Linked DNA regions of Homo sapiens: all the other regions are linked to region 2. Evidence: fine-mapped expression QTL. A gene starts in region 2. Each other region holds a variant in brackets. All regions are shown on one strand. Distances are between the middles of the regions.

Region 1 (2,757 bases), 470 kb before region 2:
CTGACGGGGAGGGGGGAGCGGCGGGGGCGGAGGCCCCCTCCGGGCGGCGCTGGGACTGTAGCAGCTAGAGGCCGGGAGGGGAGGGGAGAATGACCATGAGTCTGAGTGACAGGCGGCGAGGAGAGGAGCCAATATATATAAGGAAGGCCCCCAGCGCGCAGGTTTCAGTAGCGGCGCTGCGCGCAGGCCGGGAACACGAGGCCAAGAGCCGCAGCCCCAGCCGCCTTGGTGCAGCGTACACCGGCACTAGCCCGCTTGCAGCCCCAGGATTAGACAGAAGACGCGTCCTCGGCGCGGTCGCCGCCCAGCCGTAGTCACCTGGATTACCTACAGCGGCAGCTGCAGCGGAGCCAGCGAGAAGGCCAAAGGGGAGCAGCGTCCCGAGAGGAGCGCCTCTTTTCAGGGACCCCGCCGGCTGGCGGACGCGCGGGAAAGCGGCGTCGCGAACAGAGCCAGATTGAGGGCCCGCGGGTGGAGAGAGCGACGCCCGAGGGGATGGCGGCAGCGTCCCGGAGCGCCTCTGGCTGGGCGCTACTGCTGCTGGTGGCACTTTGGCAGCAGGTAACACGTCCCGCGCCCTCTCCGTCCCCTCTGCCGCGCTCTGGGCCTCAGCCCCGGGCACCAGCTGAGCTGACCGGTCCCCTCCCTCCTTCCCTCGGTCCCTGTGCAATAGCGCGCGGCCGGCTCCGGCGTCTTCCAGCTGCAGCTGCAGGAGTTCATCAACGAGCGCGGCGTACTGGCCAGTGGGCGGCCTTGCGAGCCCGGCTGCCGGACTTTCTTCCGCGTCTGCCTTAAGCACTTCCAGGCGGTCGTCTCGCCCGGACCCTGCACCTTCGGGACCGTCTCCACGCCGGTATTGGGCACCAACTCCTTCGCTGTCCGGGACGACAGTAGCGGCGGGGGGCGCAACCCTCTCCAACTGCCCTTCAATTTCACCTGGCCGGTGAGCACAGCCTGGGCGCACTGGGAGGTCGCAGAAGCCGAGAGAGGAGGCGCCCTGGGACCAAAGCCCCCTCCCCAGATTTCCTTGTACACACACCCCCACCCCCAAAAAGCCCAGGATGCATTCTTTCCTGGCTCTTCCCGACTCTCTCCTGAGACTGATCCCAGAAAAG[G/C]CTCTCACCAGTCTCCGTCTTCCCAGTTTATGTCCTCCCGTCCCCAGCTCTTGGGACACGATTTTCATTACCTACCACTCTGGGGCGGTACCCTACCACCCCCTCCTCCAGTGGCTCTCCCTTACACTCTCCCGTCTCTCAACCCTCCCTCTACCGGGGGTTCTCCTCTCGCCTTCCCTGCTCAAGCGCTACACTGTGCACAGCCCCGTTATGTTGACCCGGGCGCAGTAACTGAATCCTGCAATTAGATTAATTAAACAGGCTGCCGCAAGGCACCCCCACCTCTCCCCGCTTGCTCATCTCGCCATCTCTCCGTCCCCCCACCCCCTTTCCCAGGGTACCTTCTCGCTCATCATCGAAGCTTGGCACGCGCCAGGAGACGACCTGCGGCCAGGTGAGTAGCTCGCTCCGCCACCACAGGGGGGCGACACGGCGCAGCGCCGAAAGAGTTAATCTGTTCTAGGCGGGGGAAGTGCGGGCTTGGGGGTGGGAGGCAGGACGCTTAGCTTGGCCTGGAGCTGCGCCCCGCGCTGGACGCTCGGATTCCGCTCGCTGCCTGGACTCAGAGCACAATTGCGTTTCCTGCGGGTTATTTTTGGCGTGGGAACGCGGGGAGTACGGCGGTGAGAAAGGCTGAAGCTGCCAGCGCCGCTGACGGGCCCCTTCCTGTATTTTACACCTTTCGCGAATTCCGCTCCTTTGGAAAGGGAATAATGGCTTTGGGATGTTGTTCTGACACAGAGGAAAAGGATATTTCAGCAGCACAACAATTCTCACTTTGAAAAGGAAAAAAGAAAACCATTACCCACCTCTGGAGGCAGAACCCCTGAATGGGCACCAAAGGACCCCCTGCTCCCAGGGTCCTCTCTAGCCTGGGGAGCTTTTCTTTCTTTTTCTCTTTTTTCCATTTTGACCTCTTTTCCTCTTTCCCCTCCCTATCTGCCTCCAAGACCCTGGGATATCTTAACATCCTTCTATTGTCCCCTTTTTGAATACTATCAGGCCCCCTGCACATGCACACACGTAGGGCAGCTACGTAGCGGGGCTTTGGGTCCCTCTGGCCTGTTCTTGCTGGCAGGCGGGGGTCATCTGGATAACTGGGCTGATTGGTTGGCTGATCACCATCATCACAGCCAAGAAGGACATTGGCCAGCCGTCACTGGCACCCTTGGGGACTGGCGACCCTTCCCTGACCCGACCCTCTGCCCCCTCAGAGGCCTTGCCACCAGATGCACTCATCAGCAAGATCGCCATCCAGGGCTCCCTAGCTGTGGGTCAGAACTGGTTATTGGATGAGCAAACCAGCACCCTCACAAGGCTGCGCTACTCTTACCGGGTCATCTGCAGTGACAACTACTATGGAGACAACTGCTCCCGCCTGTGCAAGAAGCGCAATGACCACTTCGGCCACTATGTGTGCCAGCCAGATGGCAACTTGTCCTGCCTGCCCGGTTGGACTGGGGAATATTGCCAACAGCGTAAGCAGTCAAGCTCCCACCTGTGTGGAAGGGGAGGGTCCCCTGAGGAAACACAGTGGAGCTTCTTGGTCACAGCTTGCCTCCCTTGAAGAGTGGGTCTGGGCCTCCTACTAGCTGGGCCTCAGGGATGCTGAGGGTGGGCTTGACCTCAGACCTCCTGTCTC
Region 2 (2,757 bases):
GGCGCCACCATGCCCGGCTAATTTTTGTTTTTGTTTTTGTTTTTTCAGTAGAGATGAGGTTCCACTATGTTGGCCAGAGTGGTCTCGAACTCCTGACCTCAGGTGATCCGCCTACATGGGCCTCCTAAAGTACTGGGATTACAGGCGTCAGCCACGGCGCCCAACCTTTTTTTTTTTTTTTTTTTTTGAGATGGAGTCTCGCTCTGTCACCCAGGCTGGAGTGCAATGGCACGACCCTGGCTCACTGCAACCTCCGCCTCCCGGGTTCAAGTGCTTCTCCTGCCTCTGCCTCCCGAGTGGCTGAAATTACAGGTGCCCGCCACCATGCCCAACTTTTTTTTTTTTTTTTTTAAGACAGAGTCCAGCTCTGTCCCCCAAGTTGGAGTGCAGTTGTGCGATCTCGGCTCATTGTAACCTCCACCTCCTGGTTTCAAGCAATTCTCTTGCCTCAGTCACTGGGATTACAGGCGTGCGCCACCACGCCCAGCTAATTTTTGTATTTTTAGTAGAGACAGGGTTTCACCATGTTGGCCAGGCTGGTCTCGAACTCCTGACCTCAAGTGATCCGCCCGCCTCGGCCTCCCAAAGTGCTGGGATTACAGGCGTGAGCCACCGCGCCCAGCCGACATTATCAATAAGGTTTGTTGATAAATCAAAACCATGTAAACAGTATGTTTTCACATGTATTATAAACGTTAAGGGAACCAGGAAAAATTAACAGTTGATCTGAGGTCCCGGAATTATGGATAATATTTAAATTCCCCCGCGCCGGTTGCACTTAAATGATTTTACCTCTACACATACCGAAATTTGAGAAACAAATGATAGCTCATAAAATGTTTTCCAAACCCTCCGTAGTGTTACTTCTCTAATAATATAACTTTAATTATAAATGCTTTGTTTCATTTTTTTTTTTCTACCAGTAAACAGAAAATCTAAACTATTAACTGGACAATACCGCCCTGAGGTTGACGGTGGGTTTTGACAACACAATCCACGCAGCTAGAAGTGAGTAGAATTAGTAAAGCTATCCATGCCTTACCATGTGCCAGAAACTGCTCTAAGTGTTTCACTGACGGCTCACAACAATCCTGAGAGAGGTACTATTATTATTTCAATTATAGAGACGAAGAAACTGACGTTCCAAGGCTAATTTACCCGAGGTCACACAGGTAGTGAGTGGCAAAATTCTTCCGCCTTGGCGTATACCTCCCGCACTCACGGCCTGGCCTCCGGAGGCTAGACGGTTCGCCGCGCTGGGGAGGCCCCCTCAACCCTCAAGTGCCAGGGCTCTGTCGCCTCCCCACACCCGGGACACACCAACCGCCGGCCTGCCGCCGCTTACCTCCCCGAGCCTATAGTGTACCTTCCGCCCAGAAGCCACTTTACCCGTATAGGTCCATCTGCTTTTCCCTTCCGATGCCAAACAAGGCGTCAGAACACCAAAGTTCCGGCCGAGTACAGAAGCCCAGGAAGGACAGCAAGGACCCCGTAGCCCAGCCAACTGAGGTTTTTGGAGGTTTTTGGTCCACTTGGTCGCCAGTTGTAAGGAAGCAGTGAGAATTCAGATAAGTTTTTCGCCTCTCCTTCCTGTATCCTTTCAGGCGGCAAACTCCATCCCTGCGTCTTTTTTTTTTTTTTTTTTTTTGAGACGGATTCTCGCTCTGTCGCCCAGGCTGGAGTGCAGTGGCGCGATCTCGGCTCACTACAACCTCTGCCTCCCAGATTCAAGCGATTCTCCTGCCTCAGCCTCCCGAGTAGCTGGGATTACAGGTGCGCGCCATCATGCCCGACTAATTTTTGTATTTTTAGTAGAGACGGGGTTTCACCATGTTAGCCGGGATGATCTCGATCTCCTGACCTCGTGATCCACCCGCCTCGGCCTCCCAAAGTGCTGAGATTACAGGCGCGAGCCACCAAGCCCGGCCCCCTGCGTCTTTCAAATAGAACCCAGTTATTGCTAACGCGCCTGTATCCCTTCCTTCCTTATCTGTCGCCTCGGTCCCCACAAGAACTGCCTGAGGCCTCAAAAGGCCGATTCTGCTGGAATTGCCCCCATGAATTCTTGAGGACCACCACGCACCTGGACAGCAGCCCCTCCTACCAGCCCTTCCCGAGTCTCGCCCCACACGGTCGCCAGTTGCTCAGGGCATCTGTTTGTACCTTGTGCACACCTCTCTTAAAGCACTTTTTTTTTTTGAGACGGAGTCTCACTCTGTTGCCCAGGCTGTAGTGCAGTGGCGCGATCTGCAACCTCCGACTCCTGGGTTGGAGCAATTCTCCTGCCTCAGCCTCCCAAGTAGCTGGGATTACAGGTGTGTGCCACCACACCCGGATAATTTTTGTATTTTTAGTAGAGATGGGGTTTCGCCATGTTGGCCAGGCTGGTCTCGAAATCCTGACCTCATGATCCACCCACCTCGGCCTCCCAAAGTGCTGGTATTACAGGCGTGAGCCACCATGCCCGGCCAAAGCACTTAAACATTGTTTGTTTTTGTTTTTTTTTCTTACTGCCAGGGAAGACAGAATCAACATTGTATCTTTCACTCACTTCTCACTTCCTTTGCCACGCTGTGAGCTTTCTTGGGTCCAGACTGCGCTGTTTTTCCTTTCCCCAGAATGTACCATAGCGGCGGGAATTTAGTGCTTAGTGTGAATTTGAGAGCATATAGTTCCGTAACACCTTTGTTCTCTAAGGTTCCGAAGGAGCTCACTAAATACACTAGCCCTTTCCATGTTTTCTCCTTCACTAGTTTC
Region 3 (2,757 bases), 67 kb after region 2:
AATCCCAGCACTTTGTGAGGTCAGAGCAGGCAGATCACGTGAGGTCTGGAGTTGGAGACCAGCCTGGCCAACAGAGTGAAATCCCGTCTCTACTAAAAGTACAAAAATTAGTCAGGCGTGGTAGCACATGCCTGTAATCCCAGCTACTTGTGGGGCTGAGGCACTGAAAATCACTTGAACCCGGGAGGTGGAGGTTGCAGTGAGCCAAGATCCTACCATTGCACTCCAGCCTGGGCAACAAGAGTGAGACTCTGTCTCAAAAAAAAAGAAAAAGAAATAATAACGTGTTCTGTCCTAGTAGCCACTGATGGTCATTACCTAGATAATTTAATTCATTAGGAGTTGCAAAATGGTGATATTTCGAATCTGTCATTCTTTCCTCATTCATTATCTAGCCTGCTTCTATAAAGAGAAACCTTTTTTTTTTGAGACGGAGTCTCGCTCTGTCGCCCAGGTTGGAGTGCAGTGGCGCGATCTCGGCTCACTGCAAGCTCCGCCTCCTGGGTTCACACCATTCTCCTGCCTCAGCCTCCTGAGTAGCTGGGACTACAGGCACCTGCCACCACGCCCAGCTAATTTTTTGTATTTTTAGTAGAGAAGGGGTTTCACCATGTTAGCCAGGATGGTCTTGATCTCCTGACCTTGTGATCCGCCCGCCTCGGCCTCCCAAAGTGCTGGGATTACAGGTGTGAGCCACCGCACCCGGCCTAAAGAGAAACTTCTAATCAGCTATTTAGTTACCCCCCAGGCACATTTTGAACAGGAAAGGCAAGATAAATGCTTGATTAATTTTCCTTTCGTTTACCAGTTTTTGAAAGAATGAGATAGTTCCTGGCAAGGTACAGTGGCTCACATGTGTAATTCAAGACCAGCCTGGGCAACATAGTGAGACCCTGTTTCTGCAATATTTTAAAGAGAGAGAGAGAGATAGTTTTTAGCAACTTCCAAAGATGACTGATGGGTTTTATTTATTTTGAATATCCTTGTGAACTCATCATTTTTAACGTGCTTTATGTGTTTTAATCCATTGCAGTTATTTTTCCTTCCTTCCATCCATCTTTTTCTCTCTCTCTTTTTTGAGACAGGATCTCTCTCTGTTACTCAGTCTGGAGTGCAGTGGCGCGATCTCGGCTCATTGCAACCTTCACCTCCCGGGTTCAAGCGATTCTCCCACCTCAGCCTCTTGAGTAGCTGAGACTACATGCGTGCACCACCACCTAATTTTGTTTTGTATTTTTAGTAGAGATGGGGTTTAGCCATGTTGGCCAGGGTGGTCTTGAACTCCTGACCTTAAGTGATCCGCCTTGCCTTGGCCTCCCAAAGTGCATGAGCCAACACTCCCAGCCTAAAATTTTTTTATATTATTCTTTTTTCTTTTTAAATCGTAAGTACACAGATTAACCTGCCATCTTAGATTAATGGTAGCATATTATACACAGTTTTCTCTCTCTTTTTTTTTTAGCCACCACTCCTGGTTTGTTTTTTGTATTTTTGGTAGAGATGCAGATTCACCATGTTGCCCAGGCTGGTCCCAAACCCCTGAGCTCAAGTGATCTACCCACCTCGACCTCCCAAAGTGCTGGGATTACAGGCATGAGTCACCATGCCTGGCCACGTTCCTTTTTTTTTTTTTGAGATGGAGTCTCGCTCTGTTGCCCAGGCTGGAGTGCAGTGGTATACAGTCTTGGCTCACTGCAACCTC[C/T]GCCTCCCGGGTTCAAGCGATTCTCCTGCCTCAGCCTCCCAAGTAGCTGGGATAACAGGTGCCGGCCACAATGCCTGGCTAATTTTTGTATTTTAGTAGAGACAGAGTTTCACCATGTTGACCAAGCTGGTCTCGAACTCCTGACCTCAAGTGATCCACCTGCCTCTGCCTCCCAAAGTGCTGAGATTACAGGCGTAAGCCACCGCACCCGTCCCCACGTTCCTTTTTTATAGCTGCATAGTAGTTCATTGGTAGATGTACCAGTGGTGATTTAGCCACTCTCCTATTTTAAATTTTCCTCAGAAGCTTCTGAAGTCATCATGAGTCTTTCCCCCTCTTTCCTCCCCATAGTCAAGTGTCTTGAGTGCCATAAAAGAGAACTGTCAGTAGTGTTGGTGACCCTTTCTGCCCACCTAGTATCAATCTTCCAGCCCTTTTTTCATCTGCTGGGGCCTGACATTTGGCACCTGAATAATTTTAACTCTGTGTTTTAACTCATTTCTGTATATACCCCAAGTTAGCACAATCCAGTCTAGAGAGGACGGAGCTGTGTATTTGAGTCCTCTTCCATTTCCAGTTCTTTTTCAAGGATGAATTCATTTTCTTGTTGAGAAAACCTAGGTAAACATCTCTTCTTTCTTTCTAGCTGAGCTCCTTGCCAAAAAACAGCCATTAAAAACCAGTGAGGTCTACTCTGATGATGAAGAGGAGGAAGAGGATGACAAATCCAGTGAAAAGTCAGACCGCTCATCACGAACATCATCGTCTGATGAAGAAGAGGAGTAAGCTCTTGTACATTTTGGTCTAGTAGGCAGGATAGGTGGGTTTTTGAGGAAGAGCTTGGTATCGTTTCCAAAATCTCCCTGGTTGGGCCACTAACTCTGACATGGTTACCTTTGGTTTGCTGAACTGAGTTCCCCAGCACGTCAGCCCATTCATTTGGCTGCTAGCCTGTACGCTTAGACATTTCACCTGGGCCTGGAAGGTAGGAACTGACTTCGTGTCATTCTCAGATTGGCCTGGAGCTTTCATTCATTTTCTTTTTTTTTTTTTTT

What was found.
Region 1: its variant is fine-mapped to the expression of NDUFAF1 in anterior cingulate cortex (GTEx, PIP 0.97).
Region 3: its variant is fine-mapped to the expression of NDUFAF1 in whole blood (INTERVAL, PIP above 0.99).

Annotation. Positions count from the first base shown.
Region 1 is chr15:40,929,174-40,931,930 of GRCh38, forward strand. It overlaps DLL4 (delta like canonical Notch ligand 4), which reads left to right and starts at 167. Exons shown (of 11, transcript NM_019074.4): 1 at 167-561; 2 at 674-943; 3 at 1,452-1,509; 4 at 2,330-2,593. The coding sequence starts at 496. RefSeq lists a silencer at 1-61. The variant G/C (reference allele first, on the strand shown) is at 1,116.
Region 2 is chr15:41,401,102-41,403,858 of GRCh38, forward strand. NDUFAF1 (NADH:ubiquinone oxidoreductase complex assembly factor 1) reads right to left here and starts at 1,395. Exons shown (of 5, transcript NM_016013.4): 1 at 1,043-1,395.
Region 3 is chr15:41,467,909-41,470,665 of GRCh38, forward strand. It overlaps RTF1 (RTF1 homolog, Paf1/RNA polymerase II complex component), which reads left to right. Exons shown (of 18, transcript NM_015138.5): 7 at 2,349-2,484. Among named protein-coding and RNA genes, the nearest start is that of ITPKA, 25 kb to the right of the region's middle. The variant C/T (reference allele first, on the strand shown) is at 1,703.